3 linked regions of the Homo sapiens genome follow. The protein of the gene in region 1 purifies or fractionates together with the protein of each later gene. This does not show direct contact. Each region holds a gene or a part of one and is shown in the gene's direction. Other genes may lie near its edges.

Evidence for each region. The genes of interacting proteins can lie anywhere in the genome.
Region 2: the proteins of ITM2A (region 1) and RSPRY1 purify together in Homo sapiens (affinity purification with mass spectrometry; 2 studies listed by BioGRID and IntAct, with this or other methods). This does not show direct contact.
Region 3: the proteins of ITM2A (region 1) and ATP7A purify together in Homo sapiens (affinity purification with mass spectrometry; 2 studies listed by BioGRID and IntAct, with this or other methods). This does not show direct contact.

Annotation. Positions count from the first base shown.
Region 1 is NC_000023.11:79,364,335-79,371,972, reverse strand, and holds the start of ITM2A (integral membrane protein 2A), read left to right. Parts: upstream 1-4,638; 5' UTR 4,639-4,757; coding exon 4,758-4,868; intron 4,869-7,638.
Region 2 is NC_000016.10:57,238,275-57,240,969, forward strand, and holds the end of RSPRY1 (RING finger and SPRY domain-containing protein 1 isoform 1 precursor), read left to right. Parts: intron 1-604; coding exon 605-701; 3' UTR 702-2,195; downstream 2,196-2,695.
Region 3 is NC_000023.11:78,039,639-78,046,692, forward strand, and holds part of ATP7A (copper-transporting ATPase 1), read left to right. Parts: intron 1-952; coding exon 953-1,095; intron 1,096-2,946; coding exon 2,947-3,150; intron 3,151-3,678; coding exon 3,679-3,796; intron 3,797-5,831; coding exon 5,832-5,934; intron 5,935-6,655; coding exon 6,656-6,932; 3' UTR 6,933-7,054. UniProt on the Homo sapiens protein: ATP-driven copper (Cu(+)) ion pump that plays an important role in intracellular copper ion homeostasis.

The DNA of each region.
Region 1 (7,638 bases):
TGGTTTAACAATCATATATAAAAAATGCAAGTGCCTGTGCTTTTATTGAATGGGAACCTAACTCTGAAGCTGTCACAAAGACAGCTTACTATCACTTGGTGCTATAGTATGGAGCAACTGAACCAACTGGGTATTCGCAAAAGCATTACTGGCACTAGATTTGAGTTTCTCACTTGCATTTCTCAGAACTAGAGTTCTCATAAGACCTTTCAGATAGCTATTTTAAAAGTCCCCAAAGATAGTCTAAGATGAGATTAGAAATTTTACACAATTTAGAAAGGTGCATTGAAAGTGCAAACATTTTTATCAGATGTACTTGGTTGTTCTATGTGGCAAAAAAGCAAAGTGATTTTTATAAATTAGGGTGGCACACAACTTCTCAACCTCGAATATATAACCACATCATTGTGATGGGATGATGGAATCTTTTCTCATATTTAAGAAAATGTTACATCCTCCTATTATCATAGCATACTCAGTCTACAGAGAAAACGTTAAATGGCCTGGAGAAACAATAATCTATTCCAGAAAGCAAATGCCTTCTATTACTTTCACTGGGGAGCACTAGCTCTGCTCCCAGGATCAAGCTATGTGTACAGGGAAAGAGTGGACCTGGAAAATAGCCTGGCTCTTTAAAGATCTAAACCAAACTTTTGGAATTATACCCAGAAACAGATGGCTGGCCAGCTCTCTGTGTAGCTGCTTCATTGTTGACAGAAGCAACTGGAGAACTCAGAAGAAATATGCTTTAGGATCAGTAGCCTATAGTCATGGGTAGGCTGGGAAAGTCTTAAGAAGGTTTCAAACGTGGTTAGTCCTGAATAAAATTCTAAGCAGGAATTTCTGTTTGCAGTATGGGGAGGAGATTCATGCTTCATGCCCTAGAGAATATTCTGATTATTTTCTCCTGCTTTAAAACCAGCTCTCTTCTTGATTTTCCCATTTCTTTTTGTGGCAGTAAGACAATATAGTGGCTAAGAATATAAACACTGACTACCTGGGTTAGAATTTGACCTTAAGCAAGTTATCTAACCTCTTGGAAATTCAGTGTCTCTATCAGTGCAATGAAGTATATAATAATACTTCACAGAGTTGTGGTAAAGATTAAATGACATAATCAATTTAAAGGGCTTAGCGCAGAAATCTGGCATTTACTGTGTTCAACAAATGTTTCATATTAAGGGCACTACCATTTTCCCAGTCTGGAATTCCCATTCATTCAAAACAAAATCTTTTTTTTTTCTAATGTTTCTCCTTCATATGACTTATTCCAGCAGCAGGCCTTGTAAAGAATGGCTCCTAGACTTCTTTGGAAGTTGTTCTTTTGTTTTCAGTGTTTCAATTATCAATATAGTTCACCACCTGTCACCAGGAATATAGACGAGCACCCCCAACTGGTTTCCCAATACATTTGCTGTCAGATTAATCTTCCTAAATAGAGTGCTGCATGTGAAGCCATTGCAAATGTGCTAGTCATTTAAATATTCCTAGTAGCATTGGCTGTGGGTGGACCTATTCTGCTGGTTTGTAGAATTGTTATATCCTACTCCACAGCATAAGCCCAGTGTTCCTACTACAAAAACTGGAGAACCCACGACAAGTACATCATTGCCATTGGTATAGTAATGATGCGCTCTGTAAGGACAAGAGTGTATCTGTTTTGCTCACCACTGTATTCTTATGCCAATCACAGCACAAGGCACATAGTAGATCCTCAGTAAATATTTGATTAATGAATACATGAGTTAATGGGTGAAATGGTATTATAGATACCCTTATTGGTTTAGCTTTATGTGATTGCATTTGTGGTAATTTCAGAAGATCATTCAAAGAAAGTTGACATCATTGCTTGGCATTCAATTACATGCCATGTTCCATTCAGACCAACTTATGATAATTTAGTCATCATTTGGCATGTGAGAACAGGGAAGTCATTTATAAACTTGAATGGTATGCATTCAGATGTAGTTAACAATGTGAGCTAGAATCAGCATAGCAGCCAGATCCCCATTTTCCAAAGACAAGAAAGTGAGAGAAATTGATTCTAGAAAAAAAGAAATTGTTACTGGGAAGGAGAGAATACAAGAAAGAGCCTAGCGGAGAATCATTTTTTTTAGTAGACGGAAGTGTGTTCATTACTGATTTCAACCCTAGGAGCAAGTGGCAGCTTATATTTTGCAGTTCAAAAAATATTCAGGAACTATTTAACCTTCCTGGAATGGATACAGACAATGGGTGTTGTTGCTATTCTATGATCCTAACACAAGTATTATTTTATATATTGAGAAGGAAACTGTGGTATCTGCCAATGTGAGACTGTGCCTGCATCACATATGTCCAACGGTAGCAAAGACCCATACCTAAAAGAGGATGCGTTGTTAACAAATAGGAGATGGCCAAATTCTTCAAAATCCAAAAGAGAAGTTAGATGTCAATTTATGTGACTATTCTTAGAAGTTTAACCTTTTCCAGTAAGACCTATATTCAGGTACTGTGGGATCTTAAGCAGTTCTAGAATGTTAAGAATGGTTGAAGGGTAAATAATAAGAAGAATAATTCTTATAAGCTTGAAACATGCGTATGTTACAGAATAAAATAACAATCCCAGGATAACAAAACATTTCACTCCCTATCCTTTTCATAATAATTTAAAAGGTATTTCCTCTTGCATTATACCAAATAATCCTCACAGCAACAGGACACAAATGAAGAAACTGACATCTGAGAAGACGAAGTGACTTGCTCAATATTATGTACCCAGAAATTGATCACATACTCCCTTGATCGTTATCATAATTTTGATCTATTCATCTGAAAAAATGAAAAGAATCCCTCTCCTTCTGCCCGACCCCATTTCAGGAAAGATATACTAAGATAATACATCACAATCCCGCCCAGAACCTTGCACTTACTAAGTAAATGTGCAAGAGCAACCATGAGTGTGGATCACCGGGCCAGACTAGCACAGACCATAGTGGAGATGTCACAAAGGTGATTGCAAGCGGAAGGCAACTGTAAAGAGAAACATTCTAGGAAGGTGAGAGTTCCTCAGCTTACACTAAAGGTTGCCTGATAAATATTAAATTATAATGGTCAATCTTGAGCAATAATAAGTGAAAGAACATAGGATGCCAATATTTCTAAGCAAACTCAAACATCCTGCTTTTTAAGATTCTGGCCCTAAGTAAGGCACAGGCTCCCCGCTGTTCCCCTCCATCCACCTTCCCATCTGTGGCCTATCCAAGAAAATGAATGCTGTCTTCACAAAGGTCCCACAGTGGAAACAGGAGACAGGCTTCTGAGTCAAGGAAACATCAGTGGGAAAAACGCCAAGTTGGAATTTTTCGGATGAAGGGGTGGCGACTCAACATATTTAAGTCCGTTTCTTAGGTAGATGAGTAGATGGTAAATTCTGTAGCAAAAGCTGTTTCTTTGTTTTGTTTTGTTTGATGCTGTTGTTTTGGTAAGTGCTACTGTCTTCACACAACAGACCTTTCTCCTGTCTTCTGCAGCGGGACTATTTATAAACTGTGTACCAGTGCTACCCCAGTCAGCAACCTCCAAAGCCTGCATTGTACTTGGTAAGGTTCTCTATCAGTATCACTAACCTGGAAAAACTGACTGTGAAGAAACAGCTTGATTATACTGGCTGCACATGTAAATGTTCCAAGAATAATTTCTAACTCAACCCCTTTGAAGTTATTGTTTTTTCCTCCATTAGATCGGTATTAGCATCTGGCTAAATTTTGTATCCTCCACCTCCACCTCCACCTTCCTGAACACATAAGTACTTATACACACACACACACACACACACACACACACACACGTTTTTTTTTTCCCCCTGCAGGTTTCACAGCTGGTGGCTGAACAGAAACAGTCTCTGGGTTGAGACTTTACACTGGTTTCCCTGACCTGGAAGAGTGAAAAATCTAGATTATTTCAGGAATTTATTGTAAGCTTTCCACCCTTCTCTGTCTCATCATGTCTTATCTACAAAATGGGGTGTTGGGGAGGCAGGAGCCCTATCTTTCTGATCTAGCATCGCCTTAGGTTGAGATATTAAAATTTCAAAACACAAGCAAGCAAATAAAAAAAATAACAATTTGTTGAAAGAATCAACTGGGTAACTATAAACAGGATTCTAGGTGTCCTTTAAAAGGAAGATATTATTATCAAGGAACAGAACCTTTGTAGAATGGCGCTTTGGGGGCCTGGGTGGGTCCAGAACTAAGGAAGTTTGAGTTACTGCCAAGCTACAGTCCCAGGCCCTGCGGGGAGTCAGGTCCAAGTTTGAGAAAACAGTCATAGTCAGGGGCTATTGTGGCCTGGACAGAGGCAGAAAGACACGACACAGCAGGCTTCCTTCCTGTCTTGCTCTTATCTGAAGTTGCAGAGAGTGGGTGGGAGTATGCCTGAGGTGCAGGTGAGGCACGTTTAGCCTGAGCCGGCCACGGACTCCACTTCCCCTGCTCTTCCCCCAGTGGCAAATCCGCGCCACCTCGCAAACCCCCAACTCAGGCACTTGGGCCCCTTTTGGGCCCCCTCTCGCTCCTCCCTTTAGGCACCTCCCTGGGCCCGCCCACGGTCTCCCCCCAGTTTGGGACTGCGTCATAAGTATCCCAGACCTCGGCTTGCAGTAGTGTTAGACTGAAGATAAAGTAAGTGCTGTTTGGGCTAACAGGATCTCCTCTTGCAGTCTGCAGCCCAGGACGCTGATTCCAGCAGCGCCTTACCGCGCAGCCCGAAGATTCACTATGGTGAAAATCGCCTTCAATACCCCTACCGCCGTGCAAAAGGAGGAGGCGCGGCAAGACGTGGAGGCCCTCCTGAGCCGCACGGTCAGAACTCAGATACTGACCGGCAAGGTAGCTGTCCCAGGGCGGGATGGGGGAGGGGTGGGCGAAAGAAAGAAGGCTGGTAGCAGAGGAGAAAATGTAGCTTCCCTGGGAGGGCCCCTCTTGCTCCTCTTACGCTGTCTCTGGGGTTTACCCGGTCGCCTCGGTTCTGTCTCCTTGCGGCACCTTCTGCTTACCGCACCCTCTGTCACTCTGCATTCCCGCGTGTCGTGCCATGTTCTGTCTGTTCCAGCTCACACCAGCTGTCCTGGAGGGAGGTCAGAGAGAGTTTGAGGAGATGCCCTGGGACTCCTTGTCATTGTCTCTTGGGTAACGTGTAGGGACCTGGGGATCAAGGAGGGGCATGTCGCCCAGTCCCCACCTCCAGGGGCGCGCATAGTCTCCCCAGGGACAGAGGGGACACAGGGGGGTGAGCAAGACCGGGAGATTTAACATTTCTTTCTTTCCTTTTGGTGTGGATGAAGTTCTAAGACTAAATCTTTCTATGATCTCTGAGTGTTCGTGGAGGTGGGGTGAGCAGCAAAGGGCACTTTTAACTCCAAGCAGTATGGGTTGGGGCAAGTGGTCTGCTTGAGCGCGCGAATATTTTCCGTTTCTCTCTGGTCATAGGTGGCTTTAAACATTAGATAAAGAAGCTGTCAAAATTGAGGTGGATCTTAATGCCAGTGTTGGGTGTTCACTGTGCCCTTTTACTGCAAGAGCCTTGTATATTTTTAGAGTGGTATTTCCTAAAGAAAACACTCTTCTCTTGTAAAAATAAATTTGAGGATACTTTTCAATTATTTTTAAATTTTTTTCTTGTTGAACAACATCCCCTTCCCTCTATTTAGAGATCTGAAGCAGGTCCAGTGTTGTAATTTAAACTACTAGCTTTGACAGGAACTGGGGAAGCTCTTCCCCAAAATGTTATCCATTATTTATTTAGTCCTATTTCTACTTCTTTTAAACACCTACTATGTTTTCAGGGTTCGTATACTACTCCTCAGTATAATCTCAATTTTAAAGGGCAATAGTATTGTCTTCGTGTTCTATGAAATCTGGAAAGTGTTGGCGCTTGCAGATCTGTCCTGACTTGTCTTGTTCTCTATATAGTTTTAACTTCTGTGTTCAAAGTGGAGATATAAAAAGTCCTTTGAGTTAAATGAGAATCCATGTAGTAAAAGTTGATTGTACACACAATTTGAAATGTTAATGTGCTTATCCAGCTTTTTATTATGGAAACTTTCAATATTAAATCCTGCAGTAAAACTAGCTTTTGTGTGTTATACATTTTAGAGCTCAAAAGTAACACCCTCTTGCATTGTTGAGGTTTTGATTAAATGACAGAGGTCAAATATGTAATTGTTCTCCTGCTTAGTTTGTAGGTTAAACATGGTCAGATTTTTTGGGAGGTCTAATTAGAGGCCAGTAGTTAAATATAGCCACACAGTAATCCTTTTTTTTTTTTTCTTCACCGCCAAGCATTTCATGACTTGTAGATAGATTCAGTTAATATGCAAGCAATACTTCTGCCAGGATTGTGGGTGCGATGAGGAATAAGCAAAACTGAGCATTTGCACTTTGATTATACTTTGCTGTTACGTTTTGGAGAAAACTTAACAGGATCCTTACCTGGCCACTATAGGACACTGATAATAATATTTGACATATTGTGTTGTAATACATTGATCAGCTAGCTCATTAGAGGTTGAGCATGACAAATATGATGTCAGACATAGTGTACAATCACTTCGAAAGAGTTCCAAGAGAAATTAGCTATGGTAATTGATGGCTCACACCAACCTAAAGTCCAATAAATGTAAATGAAAACAAAAAATCCTTATTTCTAGGATGTAACATCTTATGAAATTGAAATTCTAATACTTAGGCCTTGCTTAATAAACTTCCTGAATTATTGAAAGAATAAATGAAATTACAGTGCAAACTGTTCTTCTCATGTCTCAGTAGCAAGAAAAAATAAATTTATTTCTCTTAGAATTTCAAATTAAGCTATTATGTGACTTATGAGCAAGTTACTTTATCTTTATGAAACTCATTTTAGTCATCTAAAATATAATTTTAAGTCTCCAGTTCTAGATTATTGTACAGTAATTCCAAATCAAAATTTATAGTTCTATCTTTGTAGTGCTAATCTTAGTTTAGGTTTTTTTTTTTAATAAAAATAATTAAAAGTTCCTGAAAATTACTGGGACACAGAAAAGCCTTCAAGGTTTATAGAGTACTAATTAGTGGAGGGTTTGAACTTAAATAAATTTAGTTAAGAAAATGGGAATCTCAAATTTCTTTGACCTTCAAAGAAAAATATTTTTGGAAAAATAAACATTTAACAAATGATTGTCCTTTCATCTTCTGCATTAACTTGAAATCTATGCATTTGTTTTCACCAAATGAATTTAAGGTTAGTTAGCTCTGATAAACATTGCAGTAGTTGTCCTGAAAAAGAGCTAATGACCTAAAAGACTAAAACAATTCGATTTATATACACGTTTGAATGATTTACTCTTTAATGATCAGGGCCTAGATTTGCTTACTTCATTTATTCAGTCCTTGAGTAACAATGCTGCTTAGGATGTATTGTGACATACAAAAATGGGATTAGAAAGATTGGAGTCCACTGCCCTGGGAAGGGCACAATCAGTTGCTTGTTTGCTTTGGATCTTTCTTGTTTCAATCCCGAAGCAAAATATTGATTTAACAAAATATTACAGTCACTGTTACCACACAGACAACTTTTGTGTCTAGCTATCGCAAATGCTACACTTCAAAATCAAGTGTTTCA
Region 2 (2,695 bases), on another chromosome or scaffold:
CAACATAAAAAGAGCAACATGATTTTTTTCTGGAACTTGACATGCTGATTTAAAAGTTTAAGGCAAGAAAATTCTGAAAGTTAGGGAGATGACAACCATACCACATCTTAAAATACATTAAAATAAATGTTAATAGTTTGGTCCCATTACTATATGACAAGAATGGCAGAATAATGGAATACAATAAAAGCCCAGAAATAGAACTAACTAAAAATGAAAATTTACCATATGACAAAGGCATTGTGTCAAAACTGTGGTGAAAGATGGACTGTTTGGTAAATGATTCTGGGATAAATGGCTAGCTTTCTGGGGAGAAATATTATATCCCTACCTATAAGTGCACATCTGTAAGTATATGCTGTGCACATATAGAGTGTCTGAAAGAATGCATATGAACTTTTTACTTGTTCCACAGACTAAGACAATTGAGGATCAGAAATGTAAGATTTACTTTTTATTTACATATTCATTTTTTTTAAACCATGTATAATTAGTAACCCTTTCAATGAACAAACTTGTTAACATTTTTGATTTAGTTGGCAGGCAGTTGGAGTTTGACCTTTTGAAGCATTAACTTGACTGACTTTTCTGTGTTTCTCCCCAGTGACCTGTGCATGGATTGTGCCTTGCAGCTGGAGACCTGCCCATTGTGTCGTAAAGAAATAGTATCTAGAATCAGACAGATTTCTCATATTTCATGACACATGTGAAGAGGCATCGTGGACTTTTTTCTACTCAATTCCAGCCAATGTTGAAAAGAAAAAGAAAAAAAAAACTCTCTAATCAGTTGTACACACATTGAAACTTATAGCCATGGCCAGATTTTATGCTAAAAATGGTAGTTTGTCAAAGACAAAATTCTCTTAGAATCTAATCCAACTTGCCAGCCCTGAGAAAATCCCTTTTAAGGCCAAGGAAAGCTGAATGCTAGCAGCCAGGCCTGTGGTACTTCCATGAGAAACCATAGCAGACAATGCCCTCCCAAGTACTGAAATCACACTGGAATCCCCCTTGTTGGGTTCATTTGATTGTTTAACACAGGATGTGTTGTGTCATTCTGAAGTTTTTATTTGGGGCAGAAGTCTTTATGGAGATGTAAATGACAGCGTTTCTGGGTTATGCATAACTTCTCACTGGTCAGAGACACCGGTGTGTCAAGCATGGATATTGCATTGCAAGACTTGAATCTATAAAAATTAGAATCACACAGTCAGTACTACAAGCAAAACAGAGAACCTGAAAGAAGGTGCACAGACTGTAAGAAAAAACCCAAGTTTGTGATATTTCAGTGATTCCAAAGAACATTCTAGGTTTTTTGTTTGTTTTTTTGTTTTTTGGGTTTTTTTTTTTTACTGCAGAAAATTGGTGGTATTTTCACATTCATAGTGTTTCTATCCAATTTCAGTACCCACATTTAATGAGGAAAAAATGTTTTACCAATGAAGGAGGAATTCTTAAATTAGCTGTAATGTTAGGTTGGAGAAAATTTGGTATTTAGGGTATTTTCAAGGTACCATCAAATCAGATTTCTGTTTTTTTGTTAAAAAAAATTTTTTTAATCAGTATTGTTTTTACAAGTAATATACTTTGAAACTCTTGAACTAATAGTCTCAAAAACTCTAGAGGACAGTCTGAGAACACGTATTTCTATTGTTCTAAATAAATACATGTTTTTGAATAGTTCAATCATGAATTATTGACTATGTCTTCATCAAAAGTGTTAATCCCTCTCAGGGTCTCTGGTGAAGACCTTCAAGAGTTTGGTTTTTTCTCCCAGGAAATTGGAAGGTAGAATTGTAAATTCATAGAACTTCTTTTATAATGGTGTACCTCAGCAGCTGCCTTTCAATTTATGCCAAGTCCTTACAGAGTTTATACTTGAATAGTAAATATGTCTTCTGAGTTTTACAGTGTCTTAAACTCAATGCACATTTTTTTTTCTTCTTTTTCCACCCCTTCTTGTTTGTAGTTCATTATACCTGTCCTATTACAGAACTGATTTCCTTCCTGGCTGTACATGTTGGGGTGCTGGATTTTTTTCCGTGTCTTTAGTCTTCCATAAATCCACACACACACACACACACAAAAAATATATATATATATAAATATATATGTAGGATACATGTTCTCTTCTTTAGCTTGTGGTGAATACAGTAATTTGCATTGAAGAATAAAACATCTGTTGCCTTTTTTGACTAAGATTTCACAACTTTCATTGGTGTATACTGCTAAGGTTCCAAGACATTATACTCTCAGACTTTAAGGGCTACTTTTGGGAGTAGGAGAGAATCAAGTATTAGAATTAAGAATAAGGCCACTTACTCATCCAGCAGATTGTTATTGAGCACCTAATATGTGCTGGGCACTGTGCCTATGTGGCATACAAAATATGCTTGTAGAGCTTATGTCTAATAAGCTTGTCTAATTATTGTCTATTATTATGTCTAACAGTAATTTGGAAGTGGTCCAGCTGAGACTAAAGGTAGTCTGTACATTTAGTAGAGAGAGGGAAAAATAGATGGAATTAATAGATAATTTGCGAGGCAAAGGAATGCAGGAGCCTAACAGCTTTCTAAAAATCTACCCTTGAAGTTTGTTCCTAAGGTGGGGAGAAGACAATATATTTGTGTTTATTGTAACAGATTTTTAGTGGAAAAGAATAGGGTCCTAGAGAGAATGAGGGGGACCTAATTTA
Region 3 (7,054 bases), 1.3 Mb from region 1:
CGTCAGTTTTAATTTTGTATATTCCATTCCTAGTTTTCTTGAAATGTGTGTGTGTTTGCAGAATTACAGTATTAGTACATATACCATTTTTTACTGGGTACATTTTATCGTAAGTAAATTTTACCTCAATAAAGTTAAAATCACTTGTACACATACTATTTTATTATGCTTTATTTTACTTAATGCTTTCTAATGTTGCTATATAATTTTACTATAATACTGCATAATTTATCAATCTTACACACTATAATCATTCCCCTCTTGTTGGAAATTTAGGCTATTCCTAATATTTCACTATTGTAAATGACACTACAATAAATATCTTTGAGGTTGTATGTGCTTTATTTTGTTATTTCTTAGGGTAAATTTCTAGTTGTGAGATTAATTCCACTCTACATTTATAATGTCTGCTAAGTATGAAGGCAGTCTTTTACTATGGCCTTTTTAGGTCTGGGAAGAAGCAGAGAATACCATTTTACTTTTGTTTTGTAAATAGAATAAAATAATAAGATTTATGGTAATATTTTTCCCACTATAAAGTGCCCATTTTGTCTCTCTCTGCCCCCCCCCCCTTACCTTAAAAAGAAAAAAAGTATTAATCTTCAGTTTCATTTGCCTATAAATTAGATAAAGTGTTTGAGGCTGTTGGCAAATACCTTTCTGAGGAACAAAAAGGGTCTTCTAATATCCAGTAAGGTCTCTCTTTTTATTTTCCTGTGATTACTTTATTAGTAACCCCTACCTCACTCTGAAATTTTCATAACCAAATATGGAGGCTTGTTACAGAGTTTGTAGTATAAAGTCTGTGTGGGCTTAGAGATATTTTAAGTTAAGCCATGCCCTGAACAACTTTACTTGAGAAAATTCATTTCATTCTGAAATTTCAAGTCAAAATGTTATTCTCCTTTCACTATATTCCAAGTTCTTTTATTTTGTGCTGCCCCTATATTAGATGAGCTGTGTGGCTTGATAGCCATTGCAGACACAGTGAAGCCTGAAGCAGAACTGGCTATCCATATTCTGAAATCTATGGGCTTAGAAGTAGTTCTGATGACTGGAGACAACAGTAAAACAGCTAGATCTATTGCTTCTCAGGTAATTGATAGGGGTATGTGATAACTTCTAATTATTGATATACATTTTATATCTTGCCTTCAAATGCTAAGAAATTTACATTACCTACTATTTTCATTATCACTGAGTAGTCCTATCTGGTTCCTTCAAGAAAATTTACCATGCTTTGCTGGAAAGACTTTGGGCTTTGTGTGTTGCTGTTATACGTAAAAAGGTATTTGCTTAGTTCATGGGATGCTTGCGTGACACTGTACACCAATTTCTGTTGATGTGCCCTTTGAAATGTTGCTCATATTCTTTACCAGTGCTGCCAACCTAAGCTGGGCTCTCCTGATCTCATGCCTGAAACACAGCAATAGCTCCACACACATCCCTCTCTAGTCCATCCTAAATACCACCACCAATGGAACTATTTTCCTAATGCACCACTTTGACATACCATTTTTCTGCTCCTGACTCCCACATCTGCCTTATCTCTAAAATTTTTCAATCTTTTTAACTTTGGAATGCCTTCTCCCCTCTTCTAATAAATAATGCAAGTAATCTTTTAATACATTCTTTTGTTTCTTTTTTTTTTCTTGGGACGGAGTTTCGCTCTTGTTGCCCAGGCTGAAGTGCAGTGGCGCGATCTCGGCTCATCGCAACCTCCACCTCCTGGGTTCAAGCGATTCTCTTGCCTCAGCCTCCCGAGTAGCTAGGATTACATGCATACACCACCACGCCCGGCTAATTTTGTATTTTTAGTAGAGACAGGGTTTCTCCATGTTGGTCAAGCTGGTCGTGAACTTCGGACCTCAGGTGATCCGCCCGCCTCGGCCTCCCAAAGTGCTGGGATTACACGTGTGAGCCACCGCACCCGGCCTATTAACACCTTCTTATGTAAAAAATACAGAAGGATATAAAGTAAAAATGTCCTCTTTTCCCCATGCTCCCCATTCAGTCCTACTGCCCCTCACACTGCCACTTTTTCATATGCATATATGTGCATATACAGAGTACATATACAGTATAATTCTGGTCTTTTCAACATCAGATCATTTTGAACAGATTGTTCAGTAGTTTGCTTTTTTTACGTAACAGTATACTTTGGAGCTTCATCCATATCTGAACATAAAGTTATTTTGGCCGGGTTTGTTGGCTCACGCCTGTAATCCCAGCACTTTGGGAGGCTGAAGTGGGCAGATCACATGAGGTCGGGAGTTTGAGACCAGCCTGGCCAGCATGGTGAAACCTTGTCTCTACTAAAAATACAAAAATTAGCCGGGTGTGGTGGCGCATGCCTGTAATCCCAGCTACTCAGGAGGCTGAGGCAGGAGAATCGCTTGAACCAGGAGGCGGAGGTTGCAGTGAGCCGAGATGGTACCATTGCACTCCAGCCTGGGTGACAGAGCAAGACTCTGTCTCAAAAAAAAAAAAAAAAAAAAGTTACAAAGTTACTTTATTCTTTCTATACTGAATTCCATGGTATGGATGTATCATAATTTATTTAACCATTTCCCTAATGATGGACATTTGGGTGGTTTTGAAAATTTTCTTTTTGCAAACAAGGCAATAATAAACATCTTTGGACATGTATCTTTCTGTACATGTGCAAGCCTGTCCAAGATAGAGCTAGACATGGAATTGCTAGACCAAATGATGCTCACATTTTGATAGATGCTGCCAGATGCCCTCCAAAAAGAGTTACAATTTACACACCAGCCACTGGTGTATAAGAGAGCTCATTTCTCCACATCCTTGCTATCACTAGATATTATCAGTCTTTTAAAATGTGGACATCTTGTGGGTGAAAACTGATGGCTTGTTATTGCTCAGTTATGTTTCACGTACTCATTATTTTTTAAATGAATTGAGTTTATTTTCATCACATAGGTTGGCATTACTAAGGTGTTTGCTGAAGTTCTACCTTCTCACAAGGTTGCTAAAGTGAAGCAACTTCAAGAGGAGGGGAAACGGGTAGCAATGGTGGGAGATGGAATCAATGACTCCCCAGCTCTGGCAATGGCTAATGTGGGAATTGCTATTGGCACAGGCACAGATGTAGCCATTGAAGCAGCTGATGTGGTTTTGATAAGGGTAAGTGCCATGGCTTGACCTTTGAGGAGTATGAGACTGCCCTATGTGGTCAATGATAATGTCATAAAGTATATTGAGCATAACAATTCTGTCTTAAGTTCCATGCTATCAGCCATTAAGAGTTTAAGAATATGGAGTGGGATTATGGGAAGTCATGCTAATTTACCCCCTGACTTTCTCAACCCAGCTCATAAGCAAGTGAGAATTATAAGTTTCTGAAGTGAAGAAGAAGATTTAAGAATGGATTCGGAATAAAATGATCTTCAACAAATAGTTGCTGAGATTATTTTAAGTAGATTTAATCATAGTACCAGCATACACCCCTAAAAGTGTTTTCAGAACCCTGAGGAAAATTTTTGAAAAACACCTTCGGAAGCTGAGTCTAAGTTTTAGCATTATCTGAGATTTGTAATTAATTCACATATTACCCTAAGGTAGACGTAATCTTCAACATACACAGTATCAAATGTAAAAGTTACTGGTTAAGTTAGAGTCTCTTACTAATATCACAAATATTTCTGTTCTTAGAATGATCTTCTGGATGTAGTGGCAAGTATTGACTTATCAAGAAAGACAGTCAAGAGGATTCGGATAAATTTTGTCTTTGCTCTAATTTATAATCTGGTTGGAATTCCCATAGCTGCTGGTATGTGACTCTTAACTAGTACTGCTTTTTCCACTAAAGTTATTAGAGACCTAACATATTGGAAGCCTGTCTTCTTACTATTAGTTTTGAGCTTAGTTTTTGTTTGTAGCCTACTGGTATGGTGAGAGGTAATGTTAAAATCAATCATTTTAATTTTCAGTAATGTTTGTTATAGCTTAAGAATATATAAGCATTCTGACAGATTTATTTTTTTCCCTCCAACTTTTTTTTTTTTTTTTTTGAGACAGAGTCTCACTCTGTTGCCCAGGCTGGAGTGCAGTCATACAATCTCGGCTCACTGCAGCCTCCATCTCCTGGGTTCAAGCAGTTCTCCTGCCTCAGCCTCCTGAGTAACTGGGACTATAGGTGCCCGCCACAACGCCCAACTAATTTTTGTATTTTTAGTATAGACGGGGTTTCTCCATGTTGGCCAGGCTGGTCTCGAACTCCTGACTTCAGGTAATCCACCCACCTCGGCCTCCCAAAGTGTTGGGATTACAGCTGTGAGCCACCACTCCCAGCCTTCAACTTTGTATTTTGAAAAATTTCAAACTTGACACCTGTAATCCCAGCACTTTGGGAGGCTGAGGTGGGCGGATCACCTGAGGTTGGGAGTTCAAGACCAGCCTGACCAACATGGAGAAACCCCGTCTCTACTAAAAATACAAAATTAGCCGGGCGTGGTGGCACATGCATGTAATCCCAGCTACTCGGGAGACGGAGGCAGTAGACTCGCTTGAACCCAAGAGGTGGAGGTTGTGGTGAGCCAAGATCGCGCCATCGCACTTCAGCCTGGGCAACAAGAGCGAAACTCCGTCTCCAAAAAAAAAAAAAAAAAAAATTCATACCTCCAAAAACATTGAAAAAAATGGTACAATAAAAATCTGTATGCCTTTCACCTAAACTCACCAACTGATGGTATTTTGCCACATTGCTTCATCTCTTTCTGCATATATTTGCACAGAGATATGTATTTGTTTGCTTATTAATTTTTTTCTAAATAGATTTACCTTTAATCTGACTACCCAAACCCAACACTGTTTGCAAGATTAATTCATGGAGCAAATGATTTTTAAAGAATTATACAAGTATTTTCCTCTAGTCTTTTTTTTACTCTACATCAGTTTTTGTCTTGTTACATAGTTGTGATTGTAGCTTATGGAGAATTTTCTGCTCTTCACTTAATATTCTATTATAGTCAGCTGGTATTTTTTTTAGGTTGAGAGACCAGATGACAGAGAGAGTGAACAAAGCAATATAACTGAGAAAAAAGAATTTAGAGTTATTTAATAAGCATCTGAGAATCTCCTAAACTTAGGGACCTGGTAGGAGTTAGTAATGATGACATAAAAGAAATAAGTATTGTTTTCTTCTTGTTCTCTCTGGTTTGAGGGCCAAGGAAAGACAAGAAATGACATGAGAACAATTACAAAACTGTTTATCAGCAAGGACACACAAATACTGAGAGAACAAAGAACAAAAGAACAATCTAAGTCCAGTAAGATTAATTCATGGAGCAAGTGATTTTTAAATAATTATACAAGTAATATATGATCACCATAGAAAAAGTAGAAAAATATAAAGAAGCACATAAAAAGTTAAAAGTATGAGTCTATTTCATCCTCATCATGTGAGCAAACATTCTTATGTCTGTGAAAACCAAGTGTGGATGAGTTTGTAGAACATGAACTCCCATACGCTATTGGTTGGATTTTGAATCACTACAGCCACTTTGGAGAACAGCTGAGGAATATCCACGTAAAGTTGAAGATGTGCCCATGTTATGACCCAGTAGTTTCACCCCTAGGTATATACCCCACAGAAACTCTCAAACATGGACACGGGGAGACATGTACAAGAATGTTAACAGCAACACTCTGTTAGTGAAAAAAATGGCAACAACAAAAATCTCTACCACCAAGAGGATAAATGCTGAAGAAGTATCAAACAAAGAAATGATTTGTATGTATGTTAGAAACACATTAATAATCTGTTTAGTATTATCTACTCTAACTAATCCATACTTGTTTCTTAGGAGTTTTTATGCCCATTGGTTTGGTTTTGCAGCCCTGGATGGGATCTGCAGCAATGGCTGCTTCATCTGTTTCTGTAGTACTTTCTTCTCTCTTCCTTAAACTGTAAGTATGATAGCTTGCTCACATTTGTATTTTGTATTCCTGTTATCATCTAGTCATTCTTGGTAGGTTTTATTCTTGTATTGATCAATGATAAGCCCAAACCATTCTTAATGAGAATTATTATTAGCGGCCGGGCGTGGTGGCTCACACCTGTAATCCCAGCACTTTGGGAGGCCGAGGTGGGCAGATCACCTGAGGTCAGTAATTTGAGACCAGTCTGGCCAATATGGTGAAACCCTATGTCTACTAGAAATACAAAAATTAGCTGGGCATGGTGGTAGACACCTGTAATCTCAGCTACTCGGGAGGCTGAGGCAGGAGAATCACTTGAACCTGGGAGGTGGAGGTTGCAGTGAGCTGAGATCGTGCCACTGCACTCCAGCCTAGGCAACAGAGTGAGATTCCATCTCAAAAAAAGAAAAGAATTATTATTAGCTAACAGTAATAATTAGCTATGTAATTGTTACTTCGTGTACTTTATGCATAGCAACCACAAGCACTGAGTGGGATAAAATATAGTGCACTAATTCTGAGAAGTAGGGTTTCTGATGATATAACTCCACACAATTCGTTTCAAGCTATTTTCCTACCAGTGATCACCTTTATACATTTCATACCAAAACTAAGTGTGGATGAGCAAATCTTCTTTCTTTTCTGCATGTAGCGAGCATCTCATTTACTTTTGGTTATTTGAAACTAGCATACTTTTGCATATGTCCAGTTACAGGAAACCAACTTACGAGAGTTATGAACTGCCTGCCCGGAGCCAGATAGGACAGAAGAGTCCTTCAGAAATCAGCGTTCATGTTGGAATAGATGATACCTCAAGGAATTCTCCTAAACTGGGTTTGCTGGACCGGATTGTTAATTATAGCAGAGCCTCTATAAACTCACTACTGTCTGATAAACGCTCCCTAAACAGTGTTGTTACCAGTGAACCTGACAAGCACTCACTCCTGGTGGGAGACTTCAGGGAAGATGATGACACTGCATTATAAAAGGCCATGGAGAGTGCTGCCAGTTTAACTTGTCATGCACTGACACAGCATTCATGATGTTACCTTCACTTTTCAAAATATTGTAGAAGGATTTTTCTCATGCTCTTATATTAGGGATTCTA